Linked DNA regions of Homo sapiens: region 2 is linked to region 1. The links come from fine-mapping of genetic effects on gene expression. Tissue or cell type: whole blood. Region 1 holds a variant in brackets; the other region holds the start of a gene. All regions are shown on one strand. Distances are from middle to middle.

Evidence for each region. PIP is the estimated chance that this variant, and not a neighbour inherited with it, causes the effect.
Region 2: CADM1 starts here. The variant in region 1 is fine-mapped to the expression of CADM1 in whole blood (INTERVAL, PIP above 0.99).

What each region holds. Positions count from the first base shown.
Region 1 is chr11:115,559,126-115,567,318 of GRCh38, forward strand. No RefSeq gene overlaps it. Among named protein-coding and RNA genes, the nearest start is that of CADM1, 59 kb to the left of the region's middle. The variant G/T (reference allele first, on the strand shown) is at 3,846.
Region 2 is chr11:115,500,538-115,508,711 of GRCh38, forward strand. It overlaps CADM1 (cell adhesion molecule 1), which reads right to left and starts at 3,878. Exons shown (of 12, transcript NM_001301043.2): 1 at 3,734-3,878. The coding sequence starts at 3,857. RefSeq lists a silencer at 3,904-4,063.

The DNA of each region.
Region 1 (8,193 bases):
ATAAATGTAATGCACTTGAATCATCTCAAAACCCTCCCCTGCACCTCCAGTCTGTGGAAAAATTGTCTTCCACGAAAATGGTCCCTGGTACCAGAAAGGTTGGTGACCGCTGGCTTAAAGAGCTCAGGCTCTAGAAACAGATGGGCTTGGGTTTAAAGCCACTGGTGAACTATGTTGCCTCTGGGAAGATCCTGAGCCTGTTCTGAGGCCCTATAACCACATCTGTGAAATGGAACCACAACACCTGCCTTTTCTTGTGAGCATTAGGGATAGTGCATGGAGAGCACATAGGACAATTCCTGAAGAACAGAGACACTCAGTGAAGGACAACATTTACTATTATTGGACCACTGGAGTTGAAGACTGGAAAAGAGGATGAATGGGAATGAATACACCCCTCAGGTAGACATCTCACAGAGCTGGTAAAGTGTGTGTGCTTACTTTTTTTTTTTTTTTTTTTTTGAGACAGGGTTTCACTCTCTCACCCAGGCTGGAGTGCAGTGGCATGATCTTGGCTCACCGCAACCTCTGCCTCCCAGGCTCAAGCAATTCTCCTGCCTCAGCCTCCCAAGTAGCTGGGATTACAGGTGCACACCACTGCGACCTGGCTAATTTTTGTATTTTTAGTAGAGACGGTTTCACCATGTTGGCCAGGTTGGTCTCGAACTCCTGACCGCAAATGATCCACCCACCTTGGCCTCTCAAAGTGCTGGGTTTACAGGCATAAGCCACCATGCCTGGCCTGTGTGTGCTTACTTAGTGAGCTTGTGCACATATGTGTACATGTGCATGGGTCTGACTGATGTGTTAAGTGTGTGTGAAATAAGCGCATTTGTGTGTAAGAATGTGTGATATGTGCACACGTTTATGCACAAATGAGTGTGTACATGTGTGCATATAAATGTAGTTTTGAGTGAGTGTGTGAGTGTGTTTGTGCGTTGGGGTACTCACACTGACTAGTGCTCCAAATAGACTTTAGCTTTATTCATGCTTCTCTCTCCACCTGAAGTGTTCTTCTCTCCTTCCCTATCCTGTAAACTCCTTTTGATTTATCAAGATTCAACTAGTATCATCTCTCAAGCCATCCTTGAGCTCTTTGGGAAGAGTTGATCATTCTTCCCTGTGTTTTCCTCTGCTTTACTCTAATTAGAGTAAGCTGCAGGTGGAGGCATTAACTGTATGACCTCTAGACTCAGACGTTATAGGTTTGAATCTTGGCTCTTCGACTTGTAGCTGAGTGATCCCAGATCAGTTATCTGACCTTCGGAAGCCTTAATTTTCTTATCTATAATATGGAAATAATGGCGTCGTGCTCATAGGATTGATAGGTTTAAATAATACAATGCATGTAGAGCATTTCACATGGCACCTGGTTTGTAATAAGTGCTCAGACTGTATCAATTATCATCATTACTCTTACGAGTGTATTTGTCACATAGTATTAAAATATTAGAGGTGGCCAGACATGGTGGCTCACACCTGTAATCCCAGCACTTTGGGAAGGCAAGGTGGGTGGATCACCTAAGGTCAGGAGTTTGAAACCAGCCTGGCCAACATGACGTAACCCTGTCTCTACTGAAAATACAAAAATTAGCCAGGTGTGGTGGTGGGTGCCAGTAATCCCATTGCTCTGGAAGCTGAGGCAGGAGATTCACTTGAGCCTGGGAGGTACAGGTCACAATGAGTGAGATCGCGCCACTACACTCCAGACTGGGTGACAGAGCGAGACTGCGTCTCTCTCTCTCTCTCTCTCTCTATATATATATATGTATGTATATATATATGGTTCATTTTCATATTTGTTTCCCCAAATCTGTGAACTCCCTGACCATAGACTCTTTCTCTAGCATCTATGCAGTAGCCTGACATCCAGTAGCAGTTTAGTAAACATAAAGTAGTACTACTTATCTCTTCTCTTCCCTATTTCTATTTTTTTTTCCCATCTTAGCCTCTCCAGACTCCCTTTTATGTTACCATCAGAAGGAAAACTTGAAGGCTAGAGAACAGCCTCATTCCCATACAAAAGACATCCTCAAGCAACACATAAAGATCCACACTGTATCTATACTTGGCAGGCATTTGGCTTAGATTTATTACATCACCAAGGCTATTTTTTCCTGCAGTTGTATTCAATGGCCTCAATTGAAACACTAGAAAGCCTCTTCTGGACCATCAATGAGTCCAAGATCAAAACTTCTGGTAGGACAACACCCTACTGTTGCTGCTCCATAGAAAATACCCTCGGCCACCCTGGTCTACTCATTCCCCAAACATGCAACACCACGTGCAAAACCAGGTCCAGAAAGAGAAAAGGCCAGCTTGCCACAGAAAACTGACCCCCAGAAGTCACAGTGCAAAATACATACAAATAAATCATTGTATAGGACACAGGCTACCAGCCTCTTCAACTTATTATCCTGCCTTTGTTTTCTCCCATCCCTCCTTTTCCTGAAGGGATCTGAACTGGAGGCTCAGGCACATCCTAGTTTCTAAGGCAGTCATGATTGGGGCAGGGACTTCAGTGCAATCATCTGGTGAGGATGAGAACTAAGTTATGTTCTCTGACACTCAGGATTTGGTGTGCTTGGATGAGCACTGGGTACCCAAGAAACCTCCTAGTCAGGGCATTTCCTATGCTTCTACTATTATTCAATCCATAGGCCAAGACTTCTGCTTTGATGCACCACTCTGTAATTTTCTCCCACTCTATAATTTTCTGGGCTCTCTGTCTGGTATTACTAAGCCCCTTGCAGCTGGGACCGCTGCTCTGAAACTCATCAATGATGGGGTCTCTGGGAGGCCATCTGCTTCTTATCTGTCTTTCTTCCTGGGATTGGTTGCATCTCTACATCCCTTTGCCCATTGCAAGGGGCTTGCCGTACATGGATGGAACATGGATGCTGTATCCCCTTCCCTTTGGCCTCACCTCATCTCATCTTTTGAACTTCTCAGACCTGTGTTTGGCTTTGCCCAATTTTGTATAGGCAACAAGCATATACATACTAGACTCATTGGGCCCACCCCAAGGTCCCAGCCAGTAAAATTTGGCTAATTGCTCCCAAAGCACTGAGGACTACATGAAGCAGTGTAAAAGTTGTATGGCTATCTTCATTGTTCCTTGTAAGGATAGGTTAAGCTGCCATTCCTAAGCAGGTTTGGCTGGGCATGCATTCATGCTGGGAAGGGAAGAGGTGTGAAAGGTGGTAGCTGAAGAGCAATGTAGACTATAGGGAGGCCTGGTGTATTAATCAGAGTTCTCCAGAGAAGCAGAACCCATAGGATATATAGAGAAATATAAGAGGAGATTTATTATGGGAATTGGCTGACACAATTGTGGAAGCAAGAAGTCCCACAACCTGCCATCTGTGAGCTGGAGAACCAGAAAAACTGGTGGTGTAATTCAGCCTGAGTCTGAAGGCCTATGAACCAGGAGCTCCTGTATTTGAGGGCAGGAAAATACACATGAGTGTGTATTCGTGCACATAAGTGTGAAAGAGAGACGAAGAGAAATTCAGTTTGAGATGTGTTCAAAGTCAGGTGCTTATAGAGTATACCCAGAGAGTTTCCAGTAAGAGATTAGATCTACAGTGATAGAACTCAAGGGAGAAAACTGGGTTACAGACATAGACTTGGGAATCATCGAGACCCCTAAGGTCATTGAATCCATGAGTCTGCCTAGGAAGATAGTGCAGAATGAGAAGGGGGAGCTGAGTCTTGAGCCTGGAAGATTCCCAATATTTATGCTGTAGGCAGTAGAAAATGAGCTGCCATGGAGTCTGAGAAGAAGTACAAAGAAAACCTGAGAAATGTAGCCTTTCCAAAGCCAAGGGAGGAAAGAATTTCAA[G/T]AAAGAGGAATGATGAATAAGATAAGGGCTGAAAAGTGTCCATGGGCTTTAGTCACAGACATCACTGGTGATTTAGGAAAGAGATGTTTCAGTTTGGGGCAAAAGTCAAACTGGTGTGGATTTTGGAGTAAGAAGGTGAGGACATTTTTAAAAAGCTGGCTGGGAAGGGAAGAGGTGTGGAAGGTGGTAGCTGAAGAGCAATGTAGCCTACAGGGAGGCCTGGTGTGTTAGTCAGGGTTCTTCAAAGAAGCAGAACCAATAGATATATACAGAGATATAAGAGGAGATTTATTATGGGAATTGGCTGACACAATTATGAAAGCAAGAAGTCCCGCAACCTGCCATCTGTGAGCTGGAGAACTAGGAAAACTGGTGGTGTAATTCAGTCTGAGTCTGAAGGCCTGCAAACCAGGAGCTCCTCTATTTGGGGGCAGGAGAAGATAGCTGTCTCAACTCAAGAAGAGAGAGAGAATTGACCCTTTCTCTGCCTTTTGTTTGTTTGTTTGTTTGTTGTTTTTCTATTTGGACCCTCAACAGATTAAATGGTGCCTGCTCACAAGTTGGTGAGGACAGATCTTTACTCAGTCTAATGATTCAAATGCTAACCTCTTCCAGAAACACCCTAACCCAGAATAATGTTTTACCGGCTATCTGGGCATCCCTTAATCCAGTCGAGTTGCTACAAAATTAACCATCACAGTCTGCTTGATTGTTTTCTTTTTAATGGAAGAGACTTTAGTGTATGTGATTCTTCAAGGAAAGTAGACAGGAAGAGTTAAGTATCGAGGTTAGAGAGGGGATTCATGATAAAGAGAAATTCCTTTTTTTCTTTTTGGAGATAGGGATCTCACTGTGTTGCTCAGCCTGGAGTGCAGTGGTGCAATCAGCTCTCTGCAGACTTGAACTCCTAAGTTCAAGTCATCCTCCTGTCTCAGCCTCCCAAGTAGCTGTGACCACAGACATGTGACACCACACTAGGCTAATTCTTTTTTTTTTTTTTAATTTTTAGGGATGAGGTCTCTCCACATTACCCAGACGGGTCTCAGACTCCCGGGCTCAAGCAATCCTTCTGCCTCAGTCTCCCAAGTAGCTGGTATCACAGGTGCATGCCACTATGCCTGGCTAATGAAGAGAAATGTGATGCTGAGCACAGGTGGAAACACGAGCTTTCGACAGGAGAGGGACCCCTCTTCACCTTTAGACTAGATCTAGCAACCACCTATTAGAGAGAATGACCAGAAGGATGTCAGGTGGCAGATCAGTGGCCTACACTCTTAACGTTTGGCAGAGATAATCCACACAGACAAATTAGAGTTGCCTGAACTTGAAATATCTAAAATAATAAAACTCTCAAAGTGGCATTTCAGGGACTCTGACACACATCCGCAGTGACCCATGATGGTACAGGAGGGGTTGCCAATGACCCTGAAATGCTACTGTATGGTGCCTGCCTAGTGCTAATGGGAGATGGAACTCTTGCCTGAAGAACAGGCCCACTGGGGAGGTGCTGCCCTCCCAGGGGTGCTGGGCAGGGGTCTTCCCTTTGGGGACTGATTGCAAGGTTCCTCTGACAGGGCCTTTCCTTGCCCACTACCATTTTTCTTCATTATTTCTGCTATGTCACCCGTCATGTTGTCAGTTTCCTCTCAGAACGGCGATAAATGGCGCCTCTCATGTGCTGTCCTTAGGGGACACCTGTTATTTATTTCCATGATGGGCAAGATGCCATGGCTAATTAAGAAAAATTGTGGGCTGTCCACAGCCAATCCATAGTTGCCTGTCAGCTCAGCCCTACAGTCCTTCACCCCACATTGGAGCCATTTTCCCCACTGAGAGCTTTTGGGGGTCAGGAGATGAGAAACAATGGACGCCCCTCCCTTCCTTCATCCCTGAAAAGTTCCACACCCCATTTCCTGCTAAAGTACATGGGAATCGTAGGCCTATGCTGGAGGCCTCTTCCAAGCCTCAGACCCCTGAGGGCAGGGGGAAGTCAATCAGGGCCTTTCCTTCTGTTCACCCTAAGAACCCTGGAGACACGGCCGGCAGAGGAGTGTTCCCTCCCTCGTGACCTGGCAGGGAAAGAAAGGCAGGTTTCTGGCCAGGGCCACACAGACACAATGACCTAGAAAAACGAAATGACACCTTGCTCCTGCACAGGTTACCTGACTCAGCCTAGTCTCGGCTTCTCTAAACAATAGATGTTGCCGGCTGCACCTTCTGGAGTCCCCAGATTTCCAGGCCCTGTAAAAAGTGGTAGAAAGTTGGTGTGTGGGAGTCGGGGGAGAACCTACTCAGGAGAGGCAGCTCCTGGCCTCTGGGGAGCGAATGGTAGGGAAGGGACTCAAGATGAAATGGGGCAGGGCGCAGTGGCTCACATCTGTAATCCCAGCACTTTGGGAGACCAAGGTGGGTGGATCACTTGAGGTCAGGAGTTCAAGACTAGCCTGGCCAACATGGTGAAACCCCGTCTCTACTAAAAATAAAAAAAAAGTTAACCAGGTATGGTGGCCGGCGCCTGTAATTCCAGCTACTCGGGAGGCTGAGGTGAGAGGATTGCTTGAATCCAGGAGGTGGAGGTTGCAGTGAGCTGAGATTGCACCACTGCCCTCAAACCTGGGCAACAGAGCGAGACTCAAAAAAAAAAAAAAAAAAAGTTGCTGTGGGGTTTGGTGGAGGTTAGAATGGGGCACAGAGGGATGTGGATGAGTCTTTCTCTCAAGGCTTTTTTTTCTTTGGGATGCAGTTTCACTCTGTGGCTCAGGCTGGAGTGCAGGGGCACCATTATGGCTTGTTGTAGCCTCAACTTCCCAAGGTCAAGCAATTCTCCCACCTCAGCCTCCCAAGTAGATGCGACTACAGATGCACACCACCATGCCTGGCTAATTTTTAAATTTTTTGTAGAGATGGGGGTCTCACTATATTGCCCAACCTGGTCTTGAGCTTTTGGTCTCAAGCAGTCCTCCTACCCTGGACTCCCAAAGTGCTGGGATTATAGGAGTGAGCCACGTGCCTGGCCTGAAGAGTTTCTTACCTAAGGGGGTGTCATACTTCTGGGAGGATATGAGTGGAGGCTTGCCCAGGACAGGAGAATTGCCTGGATATTTCCTGTGCTCTTGAGACCCTGGATATTTTGAAATTCTTTGCGGGAATTTTCTTATAACTTCAGATGCCCAGGTGGTATTCTTTATAGTCCTGACAAAAGAGGCAAAAGGCATAGGGGAAGGGAGAGAGGCAGGTGTGACTGGCCTTGGGAAAGCTTTGGCTGAAGATTGGATCAGCGATTTGTGCCCTAAATGAAGGCTGGGGAAACCTGAGTCCGGTGCCTGGAACTGCGATATCACTCATCATGACTTCTCCCTCTGTCTGGCTTGCACGACTTCCAGCCCTCCCTGCTGGTCAGGCTATCAGAGCACTGCCCGAGAAGAAATTACATTGTACTCAGAGACGCGATAACTTCAGAGCAGCCTGTTTTCTTCACACTGGGACACAGTGCAGCCTCCCCCTTTTGTCTCCACTTTGATTCACATTGTACCTATTTTAACACACAGTCCAGGACAAAAGTCCAGTGTGTGTGACTCCCTCCTCCAGCTCACCCTCTGGTGCTGCTCCCTGCCCACATCGGCAGAGATAGGCACACCCTGCAGTGATGTGATCTGGGGTTGACATCCTAAGGACCCGACTGCTTCAGGAATTGCAGATGTTCCCATTAAAACCAGCAGGGCTAATCTGAGCACAAGTTGCTGTAATGCTGAAGGAAATAACAGTTTGCTGGGTTTCTCTGACTCCCCAGGTCCAGGAAAGAGAACATTTACAGGGAGGAAAAGGAACAAAGAAGAGAAAGGAAAGGAAGTCTACACACATGGCTGTGTGGTTTTGGCCCTTATTTCACCCAGACGAGGCCAGTGGCGATTGCATACTGTTTTCTGCACAACCAGATCTGCACCTAGTCTTATAGCTGCACAGTTTTGTGGGCAGACACAACTTCTAGACATCACCGGGAAACCACAGGAGGAACCTTGTGTTCTAGATCCATCTGGGGGATGAGGGTTACCCCCAGCCAAGTCCAGACCAGCCTGGGTTCTGTTGCCTTGGGTGGAGGGTCCCACGGGCCGGGGGAGGATGCTCAGGCAGCAGGGAAAGACAGATGGGAAAGAAGCCCTTTATCATCCCTGGATATCTAGACCTTTTGAAACATTCGGTCACTATTTTTTGTTTTTTTGGTTTTTTTTTAGGCAATGCTGTCTCTGAGCATTGGCCAGTTCTTGAAAGGTCGGCTGTTAGGGTGAGCAGGATTTGCAGAAAACAAAGGGAAAGAAGTATACTAAAGAAAACAATACAGAGACTCAAC
Region 2 (8,174 bases), 59 kb before region 1:
AGCACCATCAATAAGAATACAATTTTTGGATGCTGGTTTTCACAGCATTTCTTTCCAAATAAATAATAAGGCTAATGTTATAATTGCAAGACATCTTACCAATCTGACATTCACTATCAACCACTTCTTGACACATGTCATAGAAAAGTGACATCTCTTTCCCTTCAACCAATATATCCTCCAACAACATCAACCTCAACAGGTAGCTAGCATTGTCTTCTGTTGAAATTTAGAGCTGGAAGAAAGGATTTCACAATCTCTCTGTGGAGACCCAGGAATCCGTTACCTTCTGGGATTTTAGAGAGTGTGGAGAGAGATGAGCAGGCAGTGAGCCGGGGACCAACTCCGATAAGAATATGAAGTCAGGAAGTGAGAGAGGAAACGAAAGTGTCCTGCCTGTTGGCGTCTTCCCTGTCCCACTCCCCTTTACCAGGAGGGCCATTGGGGAAAACTGGATAAAGCATGTACAACATCCATATGAATAAAGCTCTTTGTTCCAGAGAACTGCCTGCTCTTTTATTCCCCCCCTTTTTCGTATTTGTTCATTTCAAAAGATTGCTCAATGGGTCTCTTGTTCCTCCAAAACGTCCCAGGCAAATAATGCAAGCTTGTCTCGTCACACAAGTCACTAAATGAAGCCTTGTGCGTCTCCAGTGACACACTGTAAATATAAAGTGGCATTAATGAGGGATATTTTATCAAATCTATCACAGACAAGTGCAAGTCCCTACTGCGGCTATTCAATCTGATGCAGGGAAAGGCAACAATAACAGGGCGGCACTTTTGTAAAGTCTCTATCCCCGGTTTGCAAGCCCCAACAGGCCAAAGCAAGCAAAAGTCAGCCCCCCTCCTTCCCATCACCACCATAAATCCCCCATCCACCAGCCATCTTCTCTAATCCTGAAAATGATAAGAGGGGGGTGATCAGCTACTGGTTCACTCGGGATCGTAAACAACATCATGCATGCACCTTGAACGTATAACAGGCGTGATTAACACTGTGGAGTGAGCTTAAGCAAACCCATTTTTACTGCATTTCATTAACATCCATTTCATCCAAACATCACAGGAGAAATGAGAGGAGATTTTCTGCGGGGGATGGATGGCTTCAGTTACAGGAGAAAACAGAACCAGGACCCACGCACGATGGTCCTAATTCGCTTTCCCAGCAAGGATGTAAACGAAACAAGCCTAATGAAGTCAGATGCACCAACAGGTTTCTTTAACCCTGGGAGTGGGAACTGGAGGCCTCTGAGAAAGCTTAAACAGAACTGAGGAGGAAAAGTCCCTTGGTGCCCACCTGAAATTTACCCCTGGGGTATGGGACCCCGGAATGAGCCAAGACCTCCTCTCAAACTCACCACGAAATATATATATATGCATTAAGAGAAAAAAATTAAGAAAGTCATCTCATCTCCTCACTACAAATCATACCCAATTACTTTCTAATTTGAACACAATCTGATAACCAGCATACAAACAGGGATGTACACAAGAGCAAGAAGCTGCTTCCATGGTAACTGGCAACAGAATTTTCATGTAGCTTTGACATGCACGGTTGAGTTCCAGACCGCTCCTAAGTCAGCATATATCCCTCGCAGGGAAGGCAACTTCTCACCGCGAGATAGTTACAAATATAGTACCGTTGCTACTACCCGGTGCCTTCAATGAGCAGTCTTGACAGGGGAGGCATAATCTAATCCTACTTCTGCTGCCAAGCGTCATTGCACGACTCCCATTTTTAGTCAAAAAGCAATATCCCCGACCACAGCTTTCCACCGCCCCCCGGCTTTTTTTTTTTTTTTTTTTTTTTTTTTTGCAGCCAATACAAGTCTATTGTTGCCTCTATTATGCGCCAGTTACCGAGCCTTTACTCACGCTCACGTTTAACTGACACTGGCGCTTTTTACAATGCAGCAGCACGAGGGATCTCTTTCAGGAACATTTTATTGAACCCATCCAGTCAGAGGCATCACCTGAAATGAAGTTGTAACCACACCGGCATCGGCTGAACCCAATTATCTCGTAACTCATAAATTAAGAATTCACAGAGGAAAAACACATAAACAACATCCGGAGACAGTGGCATGGAGGAAAAAAACCCTCAGCGCTGGAATTGACGCTGCTGCCAGACGCCCCCCAATAGGTTTCCCAAGCCGAGCTCCTTTGCAAGCCTATTTTGGGGGCAAGCAGCCAACCCGGCGTCCCCCAAATCTCAAGCTAGCACCCCCACACATCCCCCGTCTCCTACAGCGTGTCTCCTGCGGTGTTTACATAACTGTGTGTCCTCTAGCGTGTAAACAAAAGGCACAGCCCAAGCGGAGAGGCGCCCCTGAAGCAGCACCGTGGCCCCAACGCTGTGCCCGCCCGGGCCTGGGGCTCCGCAGGTGGGGGCTGAGCTCTCGGCGTCCTCCGCCACTTGTTGCTCCCGGGTCCTGCAGCTCTGGAGCTGCAAGGAGGGGCTTTGCAGGCTCAGAGCCCTGCTGCATCCCCTCCTGCATCGCCGCTCGCACCCCGCGGCCCCGTGCCACTCGGTCCCGGCGCCCGCCTGGAGCCTGCAGCAGGGGCCAGAGGACGCCGCGCGGCTGCCAAGCGCGGCGAGGTGGCGGGAAGGGAGGCTGGGTGCAGCACAGCCGGCCTCTCCGCTGAGGAAGAGCTCCGGCTCCCTTTTGTTAGCAAAAGCAAACACTGCCCTCTTCTTTCCCGACCGCGCCAACGCGCCCGGCACACGGGCAGCCACACATCGGGCTCCAGCCGAGTGCTCGGTGTCTTCAGGGAAGGCACCGGGCGTGCAGAGCCGCCCCTGGGCAAATTCCCAAGACTGCTCTTCACGCAGGGAGCGCGCGGAGGCCCGCAGGGTGCCCGCCTGGCCGCAGAGGCCGCGACGCCCCCTCCGCCACCCTCGGGCCGCCGAAAGAACGGGCAGCCGGGAAATCCCGTGTCCCCACTCGTGGCAGAGGACGCTGTGGGGCGGGCGGGCTGCGGGCTCCCGGCGCCTTCCCGCAGAGGCGGCGACAGCGGCCGCCCCCCCCGCGGGGCCGGGCCGGGGAACTTTCCCCGCCTGGAGCCGGGCCAAAAAGACCCGCAGCAGAGCCGAGGGGGCGGAGGGCTGCGAACGGCCGGAGGGAAACACGAGAGGCGTGCAGTTTGGGGACAGGGGAGAAAGGCAGAGCGCGTTGGGGGAAGGGGCAGGGGAGATCAGACAAGTCTGGGGATGTCCTGGGGACCGGGGAGAAATCACGCCGCGGGCGGCTGGGAGTCAGCCACCAGGAGGCTTCGGGGATGGAGAACTGGGGGGGCCCTCTGGAGAGGTGGGGGCGAATGGACAGCCCTGGGAGGTGGGAGGACCTGCAAGTTACGGGGAGAACGGCGAGTTTAGAAGGGTCCGGAAGGGTTGAGGTTGTCTTTGAACCATCCCCTTCCCCCATGCTTTACAGCCCCCGGGCCCCCCATTCTCACTCCACTCTGCACCCCGCGCCAAGCCGGGGAGAGAAGGTGTGGGTGCAGCCATCCCTGGGGACTCTCATTCACACTTAGCCGGGCAGGGGAGAAGGGGCTCACAGATGCCCTCAGCCCCTTCCCTCTCAGCCCTGAGTTTCCTCTCCACACTCCCTCCGCTTCGGATGTAGGAAGTGGGGGGAGGTTGTCATGGAAACGTTTCCCCCCTCTGTGGCCAAGGCTACTGGGGTGCCTTCGGAGATTTAGGGGCCAACCGGTCGGTGCCCACACCTACCTGTGGGGATCAGTGCCGCGGCGGAGAAGAGCAACAGCAGAAGCCGGAGCCGGAGCCCGGGAGGCGCCGCCGCCGCCGCTGCCGCCGCACACTGGGATCCGCTCGGCAGCACTACACTCGCCATGTCGGGCACCTGCCTCAGACTGGCGGCGTTGGCTGCCTCCGGAGCCCGAGCGGACAGCTAATGAGATGCTAATGACATGCGCTGGAGGCGGAGTCCGGGCAGACCAATCACAGCGCCGCGAGCCCAACCCGGCTCTCGGAGGGCCTCGCTCCCTCCCCCACCCCGCCCCCTGGCGCTGGCGTTCGGCGGCGCGCCCGCGCCACCTAGGGGCGGGGCCAAGGGGAGGGGCGTATGCAAATATGTTTATGTTAAAATTCGGGTTTTGCTTTCCCCGGATCAAGGAAAAAGTGTTCTCCCGGGCGCCTGGCGTGCAAGGACTCGGGCTCCAGGGGGCGGGTCTAGCTTCTTGTACACCTTTATTAGGAATGTTTATAGCAATCGCTGTATCAGACCGACGACTGGAGAATCTCCCTTAAGAGGGTCCTCTGTCCCGCACACCGAGTGCATCTGGCCTAGCGAACCAGACGTTGCAAATTTCCGTCACTCACCTTGCACCGAAGGAATAGATCTTTGGGAACGGGGGCTGTGCGGGAGTGGAGAGTAAGAAGGCAGGTCCCCGGATTGACAAAACAATCTGGGAGAAGTGCATGCGTGCTTTGCACGTCCGGCGGAGCGGGAGAGCCCGCTCAACAGCCTAGCGGTAGACTCGGGGATAGTTGGAGAAGGCAGCCGTAGAGTCGGGTTCTGAGATTTTCCAGTCGGTCTTTTTGCGGCAGAATCTCGGGAAAGGTAGATCGAGGAGGGTATGCTCAGGCTCCTCCGCTTGTCGAGGGTCTCCTCCCTGGTTTTAATATATAGGTGTGTGTTGAATATATGTGTGAAATATTTGTAATATTAGATATTTAAGATTACACAACAACGGAAAAAATTAGTCAAGGCTTCAGGTGAAGAGCGGGGGTGGTGGGAGTTGGGGAGAGGGAGTGTGGTGAAGGCAGGGTCTGCCGTGTTCCTCCTTCGGGGCTCAAACCCTCTCACTCCTCCTCTGCGCCCCCAGCCCTTCCTAAGGAAGCTGGGGACCAACAGGTGCTCCGAGCTTCCCCTGTCTCTGGGAGAGCCTCTCCTGCTAAAGCGACTTGCATCTCCGGACTCACTCTCCCTCCCCGAAATTCTCTTTGCTTTCTTTTCAGCCAGGCAGCCGGCTCTCTTGTTTGTCTGCTTTTTAATTACTTATTTTCTTCCCCTCTAGAAGATCGTGTGCGCTCTGACCCTCTGTTGCTCAAGCATCAAATTGAAGGACGAGCCATATTAAGTGTAAAGGTTTATAATAATTTAAGTATTCATAGAATGCAGAACAATAAGATGTAGGAAATACAATTTGCATAATAAATATCAATATCACAACAGCTAAAACAAACCATGACAAATTATCTGTGGCTAAATGACCAAGAGATTACTGAATGTAAATTGCTAAGTCTGAGCTATAGTCTAGAAGAGCTGCGCCAAATGACTTCCCCAGCCTTCTGTCCTCATCTTGCTATAAAATAAATAAATAATACATATCAAAAAGGAAGTCATGATCTGCCAACCCACCAAATGAGTTACACTTAAAAACAGCCTCCTATTATCCATTATGCATAAACTAATTTCGAGACTGCCCGGTCTTCACAGCCCTGGATATTCTGCTCTGTAATTACAGGCCCCGATGCATGAACTGCAGGCAGTCCTTCAGAAGTGGGGAAAGCTCCAACAGGAGAACAGCACTACAGGAGACAGGAAACCATTGCCACGTGGGTGCCAGGATAATGCCCAGTCTGCAAAGTCCTACCCGTTCTTACTACCTCTGGCAGTGAGGTACCTGGGTCGGACCAAATAGAGAGCAAAGTTCCACCAAAATTGGAATAAAAAAGTTAAGGCCAGCCGGGCACGCTGACTGATGCCTGTAATCCCAGCACTTTGGGAGGTTGAGGCAGATGGATCACCTGAGGTCAGGAGTTCGAGATCAACCTGGCCAACACGGCGAAACTCCGTCTCTAATAAAAATACAAAAATTAGCCAGGCGTGATGACACACACCTGTAATCCCAGCTACTCAGGAGGCTCAGGCAGGAGGATCACTTGAACCCAGGAGGCGGAGGTTGCAGTGAGCTGAGATCGCATCATTGCACTCCAGCCTGGGCGACAAGAGTGAAACTCCGTCTCAAAAAAAAAAAAGTAAGGCCATATGTATGCTGAAAGTGATATGTAAACTATAAAGGCAGGTCCTATATGGCAAGAATCCTGACACAGAGCCTGGCACATAGTAACATTATTATCTGCCGTTACTATTATTACTACTCTTGCATTCACTGAATTCTTAAGTATTCTACATGCAAAATCTCATTTAATACTTGAAACAATCCCCAAGGTACATACTATTATCTTTCATTTTATATTTTTTAAACATGATTAGAAAGATTAAGTAACTGCCCTAAGATTACAGTCTCTAACTTGCAGAAAGAGCCTATGCAATTAACCACTGTGCCTTTCTAAATATCCGTAAAGTGAATGAATAAATTTCACATTACAATGCATGAATAATAAGCAAAGGATAGCTACATTTTTAACATAAGATGAAAATATGCCAGCAACCCAGAAACATTTTTTTTTTTAACTAACAGAATTGCAGTATACTCCTAAGGAAAAACATTCCTCATGAAGCTGAATCTCCAGGAGAATCTAGCCAGGCCCCAGTCCTCCCACACTCGGAACACAGTATGGGGACATTGGAAGATGTAGGGTGTTTTCATCTCCCTTCATTCTCTTGGCACATCAAATGAACACCTACTCAAATTTCCAGTTGGCAAAGAACAACATGGGACATTTCTGTAGGAAATGCTAATGTCGTATGATTTACCTCACTAGAGGAATGCAAATAGCTTTAGAAATTTCCACCAAAATGTCCCCTGTGCCATAAGGTTAAGGAACTTGCACGTACAATTCCCCAGGTAAAGAAACTGAGTCCTGGGGCACATTTAGACTGGGTCTACATGCAAGAAGCAGAGCAGAGAATTTAGGATTAAGCTGTTTCTAGTCTATCCACTAGCCACACGCCTTTCCTACCCCCAGCTCCTTCACACTGAAGATCTCGCCAAGCAATTTAACATATGGAACATGTGAAGAACGCATCAAATTCCCGCAGCCGCTAAGTACAAGTTATGACTACTCTGGCTTTCTCATAGTAAAGCTCGTCATTTTCTGCTTCATGGACTAGAACTCCTCGCCAACTACAAGTTCCAAAATTTTCCCCTTTGCTACATGGATTTAACCAATTTTGAAAACCAGATGGTGTTTTTGCCATTTATAACTGATAATCAATTGTTTTGTGAATTTAATTTTTCAAGAAAGAACTGAAATACTTATCAGAATTACAATCTGGGTGCTTCTTGTGTTTGAATATAATTGCCAGAAGCACCAAGAGCCCAGGTTTTCCTTTTCTTTTTTTCCTTTTGTTGTTGTGAGAAACTTTAAAGAGCAAGAGTGAGAGCAAGAGAGAGAGAGACCTTATATTGTTTGCTTTCACTAAAACAGTTAAGAAACATGGATAAACATATATGAAAAATGATCATTAAAAGATGATTCATGTTTTGAGGATACATCAGAGACAATCAATGAGAACTAGCAGCATCTCGCTTTGTAAAGGACTAATTATTTGAGTACCTAGGTATAAAAAGCAACAAAGACAAATGATTAGGGAAAAGAAAACAGTATTTGGAGTCAGCATTTGCCCCGCAGGTGGATTATTTAAGTACCTATAGAAAAGTGATTTAATCTCTATTACGGACTAAATGTTTTGTGTCTCCCCAAAATTCATATGTTGAAGCTTAAACTCCCCCCATGTGATGGTGTTTAGGAGTGGGATCTTTGGGAGGTAATTAGATTTAGATGAGATTATGAAGGTGGGCCTCCATACTGGGATCAAAGTCCTTATAAGAAGAGCAAGAGATACCAGAGTTCTGTCTTGCCGTGAGCATGCACCAAGGAAAGGCCAGGTGATCACACAGCAAGAAGGCAGCCCTGTGCAAGCCAGGAAGAGGGCCCTCATCAGAACCCAATGGTGCCTTCCAGCCCCCAGAAGAGCACAAAAATAAATTTCTGTTTTTTAAGCCACCCAGTCTACAGTATTTTCTTATATCCTCCTGAGCAGACTAAAGCAATCACTAAGCCTCAGCTGCCGTTTTCAAAAGGTGCATTAAAAGTATCATAAATGTCAGCTTTTGATAGAAAAGCATTCCATACATTCAAGTAAGTTAGCAATATATTAGAATATTGGACTAGATAGACTATTGGTCTCATTTAGTAGCTCTTATATACTTTGATTAAGATTAAGAAGCTCATCTTT